Regions from separate parts of the Homo sapiens genome. Here region 1 is linked to region 2. The links come from fine-mapping of genetic effects on gene expression. Tissue or cell type: subcutaneous fat. Region 2 holds a variant in brackets; the other region holds the start of a gene. All regions are shown on one strand. Distances are from middle to middle.

Region 1 (5,373 bases), 38 kb after region 2:
TGCCCCTTGGATTTCCCACTAAGAGGAAAGACAGAGCACCAGATTTTCTCCATTATATCCTGGAACTAACACTTGGAGTCCCTACCAAATTGATTAAATCTCTTACAAGGTTCCGGCCGATGGGAGCTCACGTCTCCAGGGAGCTGTCCCCAGCCCAGGTGGTCTGTGTGGCACAGCAGCCATCAGGGTGCCTAGACCCGGAGAGGCCCCAGGACCATCTGGGAGGGCCTGCTCATGGCCAGCAAGAGTTGGTCTGGGATCCCGGTGGCCCTGGTAGGCTGTTGGTGAAAGGAATGGTACTCGGGCCTGGGCTGGGCAGTCTGGCTTCTGTGGCTAGTTCCCTGAGAGTCCCTGGGAACGCACCCCTGCCCCACAAGGCCTTGAGGTCCTTTCTGCACCTGGCACACCAGCTCCTGGCTCCAGCTAACTTACCTTCTTTGGCTCTTCACTCATTTGATTTGCTTCTGAACCAGCGGCATCAGTTTGATGTAGTCCTGGAACGCAGCCAGGACACTGGGGCCCGCCTTGCCGTCTCCACCGTCCGCAGCACCTGGCAACAATCACAGTGGAGGCGAAAGTCAGTCACTTGTTCCGCCATGAAGAATTTTTTTTTTTTTTTTTTTTTGAAATAGAGTTTCACTCTCGTTGCCCAGGCTGGAGTGCAGTGGCGCCATCTCGGCTCGCTGCAACCTCTGCCTCCCAAGTTGAAGCAATTCTCCTGCCTCAGCCTCCTGAGTAGCTGGGATTACAGGTGCGCACTACCACACCCGGCTAATTTTTGTATTTTTAGTAGAGATGGGGTTTCACTATGTTGGCCAGGCTGGTCTCGAACTCCTGACCTCAGGTGATCTGCCCACCTCGGCCTCCAAAAGTGCTGGAATTACAGGCGTACAGGCATGAGCCACCATGCCAAGCCCTTTTTCTTTTTTTTTTAGACAGCTGTCTTGCTCTGTCGTCCAGGCTAGCGTTCAGTGGCATGATCTCTGCTCATTGCAGCCTCCACCTCCCAGACTCAAGCAATCCTCCCATCTCAGCCTGCTGAGTACCTGGGACTACGGGTGCAAGCCACCATGCCTGGCTAATTTTTAAAATATTTTGTAGAGATGAGGTCTCACTTTGTTTCCCAGGCTGGTCTTGAACTCCCAGGTTCAAGCGATCCTCCTGCCTTGGCCTCTCAAAGTGCTAGGATTACAGGCATGAGACACCACGCCCAGCCGCCATGAATAAATGTGTATGCTTATTTGTTCATTCATTTGTTCAGCTGTTCATCAAATATCTACATTTTAAAATTACAAGCATGTAATTTAAAAACAAACAAGGGAAAATGACACTGCCTGGCTTCTCCTTACGTGGTTGCTTATCTCGACCCATGAATCCTGGCCGCAGGCAGGAGGTCCTCTGCCCCCAGTTCCCATTCTTGGTCTCAGGGTCCTTGACCCAAGGTGGCTCCAGACTGGAGGAGGGTGGGGCGAGGTGAAACATGGCTGGCTAGACGGAAGGCCTGGAGGTATCCTCAAGCTGCTGCTGGCACAGCAAGTGACCTGTGCTTCTCTTATACTTGGGGTGGCTTGAAGGAGGGGCTCGTGGAGATTATGGGAGGATCAATCTCCCTCCCAAACCCAGGCTGGTACTGCCTCTAATCAGGAAATCTCAACTCTTAGAGACCCCTGGCCTGTGGGTGCACACAGTGCCCTTGGCCCTGAGGTCTGACCCCAAACTGCTCACACAGCTGCTGCCTTGTTGGGGACCCAAGTCTTCCCTAGGGTCCGAGCCAGGGTCTGGGGCTGGTTCAGCTTCATGGCGCCACCAGGGCCACAGGGGCAGTGGCACGGTCAACCTCTGAGGACAGGTCAATGAACAGATGGCTTTTCCGGGCCTGGTATGACAGAGTCTTACTGGTTCGTTGTTTTGTTTTGTTTTGTTTTGTTTTGAAATGGAGTCTCGCTCTGTCACCCAGGCTGGAGTGCTGTGGCACGATCTCAGCTCACTGCAACCTCCTCCTCCCAGGTTCAGGCAATTCTCCTGCCTCAGCCTCCTGAGTAGCTGGGACTACAGGTGTGTGCCATCACATCCGGCTACTTTTTTGTATTTTTAGTAGAGACGGGGTTTCACTGTGTTAGCCAGGATGGTCTCGATCTCCTGACCTCGTGATCTGCCCGCCTCGGCCTCTCAAAGGGCTGGGATTACAGGCGTGAGCCACCGCGCCCGGCCTTGTTCATTTTTAAAAGTCGAAAACTTCAGCAGAAGAAGAGCAAGGAGGTGAATTTCTAATCGATTTATTTTGCTGAAATTCTGAGAGAAACACTGTGGTGTGGGGACAGGGAGGAGCTCTTGCACACACACAGGTGGATCTGCCCACTTTCCACCAGCGGTTTCATTACTGCGAGTTCAGGCAGAGTCCCGGTGCCGAGCAAAGCGTGGGGCCCCTCCGGGAAGCCCGCAGGTCACTCAGATCGCAGCGGGCTCCGGCCTGGCCAGGATTCTGGGGGAGCCGCCCGGAGCGCGGTGAATCGGGGCGGGGAGAGGGGCGGGGAAGGCGCGCGAAAGCCCCAGCAGAGACCGGCAGCGGCGGGCGGCCCGCGTGGGCTACTGCTGGGGGCTGCGTTCGGGCGAGGAGGGGAGATTCTGTCTCAGAGGCCTCGGGCTGCACGTTCTTCCGGGCCGCGCATTTGCAGCCCACAGCAGGCCCCAGCCGGCCCCTCTGGAGTTGGGCCACTGCTTCTGCAGGCCCAGCAGGCCCCTGGGGGCGGCCGGAGGCCACTAACTGGCTTCTCCAGCTCAGCATTCTTCTCTCATTTGCTGGGTACCCCACTCTCTTCTCTACCCCTTTGAACCATCTTTACCCTCATTCCTCAGGGAACGTTTAACGAGTTGAATGTTTACCATGTAGTCACTCTATATGGAAATCATAATTCAATTTTGTAAACATCAGACTTTGACAAAACAAATGATGATGTTCTTAAGGAAAGCAGAGAGACACAGTGTGAAATCGCTGCTCTCAGATCAGCACACGGGAGAGGCCAGCAGTCAGGAGGGGGCTCACCGAGTTTGTCTGCACTCGCTCCCTCCGCAGCCGCCCTCTCCAGCTGGAAGAAGTCGTAATCGAACCTGCTCAGGTCCTCACTGCCCCACTCCGAAGGAAACCCCACGTACAGGTAGGTGCTGTTGGATCCCAAAATCAGGCGGTCCTGGGGAGGAGACGGTGGGCTCAGGAGGGGTTCGAGGCCAAGGAGGGTGAGGTGAACCTCCCCAGTGAGAAGGATCTGAGGAATGTCCTCCCCTCAGGAATCCCCCAGACAGGGAGAGACGCAGACAGGAGGGAGGTGGCCTCTGGCTCCTGCGTTCACCTTCATTGCACACATTGAGGGCGTGACTCCCTTGGCCCTGGGGTTCTGTGGGGACCACCCAGAGCCAGGCCCTCCCTCCACGCTTTCCAGGCTGGTCTGGGTGAGTGCAGCAATGGCTGCAGGGGACACCAGGACCTAACTCAGACTACAGGCTACAGACGGCCTTTTCCGAGGCGTGATGCCCAAGCTAAGCCCTCCTGGGCGGTAAGTCTTGGTGAGGCAGAGACGGCTGCTGAACAACCAAAAGAAGGGCAGTGTGGCCAGGGACAGGAGGCCGAGGGAGGTCACTGAGGGGGCTTTCCAAATGGGGAGCGGCCAATCCCCATCTGCCTGTCCTGTCTGAAAGGCTGTGGCCACCAGGGAGGGGAGAGGGCTGCTGGGAAGCTGGCAGGGGCCCCAGGGTTGGCAGATTGGGGAGGAAGAGGCAGCGATGTTTGCAAGATGCTGTTCAACCCCTCTCAGTGACAGGCTCTTAGAAAAATCTAAAATGGCACAAAATGTTAGAGCTGGAAGGGACCTTGGAGAACACCTAGTTCAGCCCTCCTTGTTTTCCAGGTGAGGTCAGAGGAGTGAAGTGACTTGCCCAAGACCACACAGTGAGTCAGGAGCAGGCCTGTCCCTCCAGCAGTGGTGCCATGTTGTCCCCAAGCCATGGTGGCAGAGGAGCTGGTGTGAACGCCCCATCCTGCCACGTCTGTGATGTGGGCACCTCACATGACTGTCCCCTCCCAGCTCTTGGGGGGGACCTAGGACATTCTGTGAGCCTGCAGGAAAGTTTACCAAATGCTGCAGCTTTGTCCTGGTGGTGATGGGCACCCCGTTAACGGCAACCTTGCATTTGCTATGTGGAGTGACCGTCACTTTACCGTCGGCATTTGTGAAGGAAGCGTGTTTATCTGAAATTCTAAGAAGATGAGAGTCAAAGACACCCAGCAAACGGCGGTTTCCGTGAGCAGGTAGGCTGACCTTTCTCATGTGCACAGGAGGGAAGGTCTACAGCTGCGGAGGATGGCAGGTGGCATCTCGGGGCCTCCTGTGTGCTGTGGCCCATGATGCATGGGGACAGCAGCGGGCGCAGAAGGACCCTGCCCTTGGGGAGCACGGGGAGCTGGGAGACAGCAGGCAAGGGCTTCATTAACAGAACGAACACCAGCTGAGGGCCTAGCACTGCGGGGAGCCGGCCAAGGCCACACTGGAGTCCTCCCGCTCCCAGGCCAGCGGGATGGGGTGGTGGGAAGATGGCAGCAAGCAAGCTTCAGAAGAGACGCTCAGGAGGCGACTCTTAACGAGCCTCACCTACTCCGGGTACGTTTTGATCTGTTTCTGCGCCCTCGCCGTATAAATTCAGACCTTATAGGATTTGGGGCTGGACGTCGGGGTGTCAGGTTGGCATCCCCTCTCCCCGCCCTGCTCCCCTGCACCGATGTCATCTGTGTGTCCTGAATGACTGGCTCCCTGCCTTAGCATGTTCCATGTTCCTGCACTCCTTGGCCATCATGGAATGTTCTGGATGTGGAGACCCGTGTGCATCCAAACCCTTTTTTGCATGGGGCCCAGGGATCCTGTGGGAAAGGTTGCGGCCTCATCACTGGAGTTCAGACATTTACGCACCTGTGCGTTGGACTAAGGACGTGTTCTGGAAAGGGACTTGAGGGGGATCCCCAGGAAGATGTCCCAAGAAGGAGGCTGGCAGTGCAGGACGAGGCGGGGCCAGCCGGCCCCTGGGTCAGCACCCCTCCAGCCACGACGGCCCGTGGGCTTTCGTACGGGGGCAGGGGGTGATCTGTCTGAAGGATGTAGGTGATGGTGCTTCCCAGCTGGAGAGCTGGAAGCAGGAGGAGGACACTCCAGCAGCAGCCTCCCAGGCAGGGCAGCCACAGAGCTGGGGACAGCTCTTGACTGGGTGAGGCCCGGCATGGGGTTTCCCAGGGCTCCTGCGGGGCCTCCTGAGGGAGCCCTTGGGGTCACTCCACAGTCTGGGCTTTCTGTAGTCCGGTGGGTCAGGGCTCCAAGCACCAGGAGAGAT
Region 2 (5,373 bases):
TTGTTTTTATTAATTGTCACCTGTAAAAATATTGACTTAAATCCTGCAGCTATTTGATCTCGAGATTTAAATTCATCTGGTTCTCCTCATGGAACTCCAGTAGCGTTTATATAAACATGGGGGTCAAAGGACCCATGTGGGGCACTTCTTTTATGATTTTCTTTTTTATCATGTTGACAGAATGCTAGGGTGGAAGGGATGGCCAACTGGACTAGAGCACAAGTGCTGCTCTAATTACTTGCAGAATACCCAGCAATAGTCCCCCGCAATACCACCACGCACCTGCTCGAGGATGAACAAGGGCAGACTGGTGGGTAAGCTCTGGAAAAGGCTTGGTTTCACTGCACCCTGTTAAGTCTCCAAGGAATGCTAACTTTTCCGTCTGCCGTGAAAGGCACGAGGTGAAGTTAATATCAGGCTGGAGGCCACATGGCCCTCGGGGGCTGACCCACAAGGCTCTTGACCTCAGGGAACAGCAGTGAAAGAGTCTTGCATGACTCATCGCCTCGGCTGTAGGGTTCTGGAAGAGAGCTACCACACAGCTCATGCCCAGTCATGAGAGAACCACCCAGGTGGAAAGGGGACAGTTTGGGTATCTGGCCTGCCTGTTGCACAAGCATAACCGTCGCTTTTGTTTAGCGTGCAAACAGAATATTTTATCCATTCCAGCCAAGCATTTGCATCCAGATACCCTGTTTCAATTGCTGTAGTTTGTTTTAAATCTTTAACCTCTACAGTAGCTACATAGGTTTTATCATTGGGTATATAATGAGAGAAAGTTTGGTTAGTGGAGAACTTAGACGAGGGAGAAGGGGGTGCAGGATGTGAGGAGGCAATGAAGTACATTTCAAAGGATCCTATGGGGTCCTTCCCTGAGACTTCTCCTACACCACAGAAATGGCCTAATGAAGGGGAAGAACTCTGGGGAGCAGCAGTCGTCATCTGTGCTGGATTACATTGGTTCAGCTGACCATGGGGAGGGGAAACTCCTTTAGTAAAATGAATGTATGGTTTTAAGAAGCTGCAAGTACTAGTTGGGGCCGTCCGTCCTTGCTCTTTGGTGTTTTATAGAGCATCGGACAAATTTCGGCAGAGAAGCTCTGCTCTAGGAGGACAAGATTCCCAGTTCATACTGGACTCTTTGTCAAAGTCCTCCCAAACTAACTTATCTCAGTTAACAGATTTCCAGTCTGAGGAGAGCTAGGAAGGATAAAGATACTTTTCTAAAGTGTAGATTTGCCTCTGGTTTGACAAATCTTCACAGGGCATCAGAAGGCAAGCGTCAAAAGTAATGGTTTGGGGTGAACTTGACCTAGTTACACTAGTAAAGAGAGGACTAGCAATAGAAGGGGAAAAGAAAGAGATGCAGTATAGGAGGTTCAAACCCATTTTCGCTTTAGCTTGGTTGGAGTTGGCCCTGGAATAGCTGTCCATGATTCTGGAGGGGGTGGTGCTCTTTGGACCCAGGTGTAATGAGTCCATCCTCTTTCTGCTGTTCGAACCGCGGTCTTGGTGCTTAGAAGCACTAGGTAGGGTCCTTCGAAAGCGGGTTCGAGTTTTCCTTCCCTTTAGCTTTTGACAAGGACACGGTCCTCATGCTAATGTTGGTGTACTGGAAACTCTAGCGGGGGGGTACCTGTGCTGAAAGACCTATAGTTCTGAGGGACGAGAAAGTGGAAGATAAACCAAACATACAATTTCTGAGGAACTGATCTTTTGTTTTGACTGTGGGAATGTCAGCAGTGGAGTGCAAACAGGGCAACCTATACAACACTTCGTAAGGGGATAAGCGAACATCTTTCCGAGGGGCAGTTCAGATTCTAGGCAGGGCAATGGGATGGCAGCTAGTCCATGGCACCCGAGTCTCTAGACTAATTTGGTTAGGTGGCTTTTTTAGAGTTTGGTTCATTCTTTCCACTCTTCCTGATGAAGGTGGGTGCCAGGGAGTATGATATTCCCATGTTATATCCAGTACCTGGGCTAATTTCTTAATGACATGTACAGTGAAATGAGTCCTATTATCTGAGTCAATGCTTTCTATTAATCTAAACCTGGGTATAATATTTTCAACTAATGCCTTGACTACATTACTAGCAGTTGTACTTGAAAAGGGAATAGTTTGTACCCAACGAGTAAGGTGATCTATTATTACTAATAAATACTTTAGACGACCAATTGGAGGCATCTCTGTGTAATGAATCTGGATACTTTGGAATGGCCTTAAGCCTGGACTCCTTCCCCCAAGGGGTAATCTTTTTATAGTTTGTTTATTGGTTTTCTTACATACTGAGCAACTGTCTGTAACCCGTTTGGCCGGGGTATAAATTCCTGTGCACCCATAAACTCTGAGGACTGCGTCACACATGGCGTGGGGCCCCCAGTGGGTCCCTTGACGCAGCTGGAACAACATTTCGCTCATAAGGGGTTTGGATAACATTTCTCTCTGGTCTGGCAGTATCCATTTTCCTTCAGAATTCTCTTTAGCAACTGTTTTTATTAATTTTTTAGACCAAAGAAACCCAAATGCCATTTTATATTTGACAATTAGCAGATCAGCTAAATGTCACCTTTCTATTAGTGTGCTATTAATGTTAAACTCAATTTTAATAAAACCTTTTAGACATATTTATCCAATTTTAATGTCTGACCATAAGTTTTTTATAGACTCTTTTTAACCCTTTATAATTTTTGTTAAAGAACAGGTTAGTACTTTAAGAAAAACCTGTTGTGCTTTTATTTTAATGTCCAGTTTACAGAAACTTTAACCAATATGTTTACACACAGAATTTCCTTTACAATTAACTTTTCAAACCTTGCTTAAACCTTCAAAACAATTTTTAACCTTTTAATGTAGGTAAAAATCCACATTCTTATGCCTCCTTATAATCCTTTTACCAAAAGTATATTTTACTTTCCTTACACACCTTGCACATAAACTGTTTCTTCAATAGTTTTACATTCAGGAGGCCTAATTACTTTTCAATTATATGACATTTCTTGCATAAATTCCCTTTTATAACATTTTTCACGACTTTCACAGACGACCTTTGACATGCCTTAACTTTCTGACTTGTCGTAAATATCCCTTTCTTTAAACAACCAGTTAATTTACTTTAGGACAAGAATTTACCATATAAGATTCTTTTTACATAAATTCTCCTTTTTTTTTTTTTTTGAGATGGAGTCTCGCTCTGTCGCCCAGGCTGGAGTGCAGTGGCGCAGTCTCAGCTCACTGCAAGCTCGCCTCCCGGGTTCATGCCATTCTCCTGCCTCAGCCTCCTGAGTAGCTGGGGCTACAGGCTCCCGCCACCACGCCCGGCTA[AT/A]TTTTTTTTTTTTGTATTTTTTTAGTAGAGACGGGCTTTCACCGTGTTAGCCAGGATGGTCTCATCTCCTGACCTCATGCTTCACCCGCCTCGGCCTCCCAAAGTGCTGGGATTACAGGCCTGAGCCACCGCGCCCGGCTAATTCTCCTTTTTTTTTAATGTCAAAGATGATAACCATTCTTTTCCAAAGCACACTGCCTTCATGTCTGTGGACTAGACTGCCTGAGGCCACAAGATTAGAAGTTAGGATCATACATGTTAGACTTAACTTTTAGCAAACTTTACTTTTGTTGAAAACCTTGTAAGTTTGGGATTTTAATTATGTGCTAGGTGTAGAGCCTAGGACCTAGACAGAAGTGCAGATGAGGTCTGGCTTCTCCTAGCATTTAACTCCATGTGTCCTAGGTTTTCCCTAGCTGCAAAGCAGGCCAGTTGTACAGCTAAGAAACGGTAGTCTGTTTGGCTATCTGATTAATAGCTCTAAGTTCTTGCACTAACCAGTATGACCCATCTGGCTTCTTTACAGGCAGAATTTGAGTGTTATAGGGAGACATACAGGGTTTAAGCAGCCCGTCACAGAGAAGACCTTCAATTATCAATTGTAGGTTTTAAATTTACCCTCACTTTTAAAGGAATAGGGTATTGCTTTCTCTTTTCTACTTCCCCAGGGGTTTTTAATTTTTTTAATTTAACACGAATCGGAGGAATCTGTAACTTTCCTCGATTCCTGTCTTTTGACCATACCTTGGGATGAATGTGTTCTTTGTCTGCGGTGGGGAGCAAGTTTAGGGAGGGGAGGAATTTTCCCTAATCAATATAGAGGCGTAAGCCAAATTTTAGTACTAAATCTCTCTCTGATAAGTTTGTTCCTGCCTCTGGAATTAACAGAAATTTAATATGAACTGATTTGCTTTTATATATGACTTTTGTTCTTTTTCCCATTTGGGACATTGTCTTTTGAAGTGACCTATTTTTAATTCGAAACATTTGTTTTGTCCTCTTTCTCTCCCTTTGCCTCTTCGTCTGTGTCTCTGTCTCTCTCTCTCTCCGCCTCTCTGTCTCTTTCTCTCTCTTTGCCTCTCTGTCTCTTTCTCTCTCTCTCTTTTTCTTTGACTCTCTCTCTCTCTCTTTCTCTCTCCTTGACTCCTTCTGTTCCCTGTCAGTCTTTCTCCTCTAGGATTTTTTTTCTCTACCTTTGAGTCTCCTGGCTTTACTCTTTCATCCTCTTTATGTTGCCTGGAGAGTGGGGGTCTAGGTTCTTTACAGGTTCTGGCCCCCTGGGTACTTTGTTGTATGGTAGACAGCAGAATTTTTGCTTTCTGCTTTTTTCTTCATCTCTTCTTACATACACTTTTTGGGCTTCTCTTAGAAGCTCTTCTATAGGTTTATCTTTCCAGTTCTCTATCTTTTGTAATTTCTTATTAATATCTGGCCAACTGTTAGTGACAAAATGCAGTTTTAACATTCCCTGCCCAAGAGGATCCTCGAGACCTAGACCAGCATATTTTCTCATTTGTTCCTTTAATCTAAAAAATTTTATAGGTGCTTCATCTTTCCCTTGCTGTACATAAAATGTTTGGGTAAGATTCTGGGATACTGATTCTTTAATCCCCTTTATTATCAATTCCCTAAGGTCCTGCATATTTTCTTGAGGGGCTGCATTGTTATTGTCCCACCTGAGGTTTTGGGCGGGAAATTTTTGATCCGCTGTAGGAACGTTTTGGCCAGAAGGGTGTTCACGTTCCAAGACTCCCATAGCAGTTCGACGGATCGTGGCTCTTTCTTCCCCCGAGAAGAGAGGAAAGGGAAGTTCTGAAAATCCTTTTTACATTGCTCTATCTCACGCTGAAGTCCTTTTAGGGAAGAGGACTTAACGCTCGTAGTGAGTGGGCTCCTGGGACAGTTCCCAGGAGGCAGGGTTATAAGGAGGGGGACAATGGGGATAGGAGAAGGGTCTGGGACAGCAGCTGCTTTTTCTTGTTTTTGGTCCTTTCATTATCCTTCTAGTATTTTAACATGAGACCTAGGGGGCACTCAAGGGGAATATCCT

Direction of the effects. Alleles are on the strand shown, and positions count from the first base shown. SD is a standard deviation of normalised expression in the study named.
For the expression in subcutaneous fat of the gene that starts at base 3,074 in region 1, A is the high allele of the variant in region 2 and AT is the other (moderate effect, 0.56 SD a copy in TwinsUK).

The links.
Region 1: it holds the start of LINC01341, and the variant in region 2 is fine-mapped to the expression of LINC01341 in subcutaneous fat (TwinsUK, PIP 0.95).

What each region holds. Positions count from the first base shown.
Region 1 is chr1:246,786,544-246,791,916 of GRCh38, forward strand. It overlaps LINC01341 (long intergenic non-protein coding RNA 1341), which reads left to right and starts at 3,074. Exons shown (of 2, transcript NR_015422.1): 1 at 3,074-3,155; 2 at 3,903-4,943. RefSeq lists a silencer at 2,315-2,394.
Region 2 is chr1:246,748,617-246,753,989 of GRCh38, forward strand. The region is part of intron 5 of SCCPDH (saccharopine dehydrogenase (putative)); the gene reads left to right. Among named protein-coding and RNA genes, the nearest start is that of SCCPDH, 27 kb to the left of the region's middle. The variant AT/A (reference allele first, on the strand shown) is at 3,323.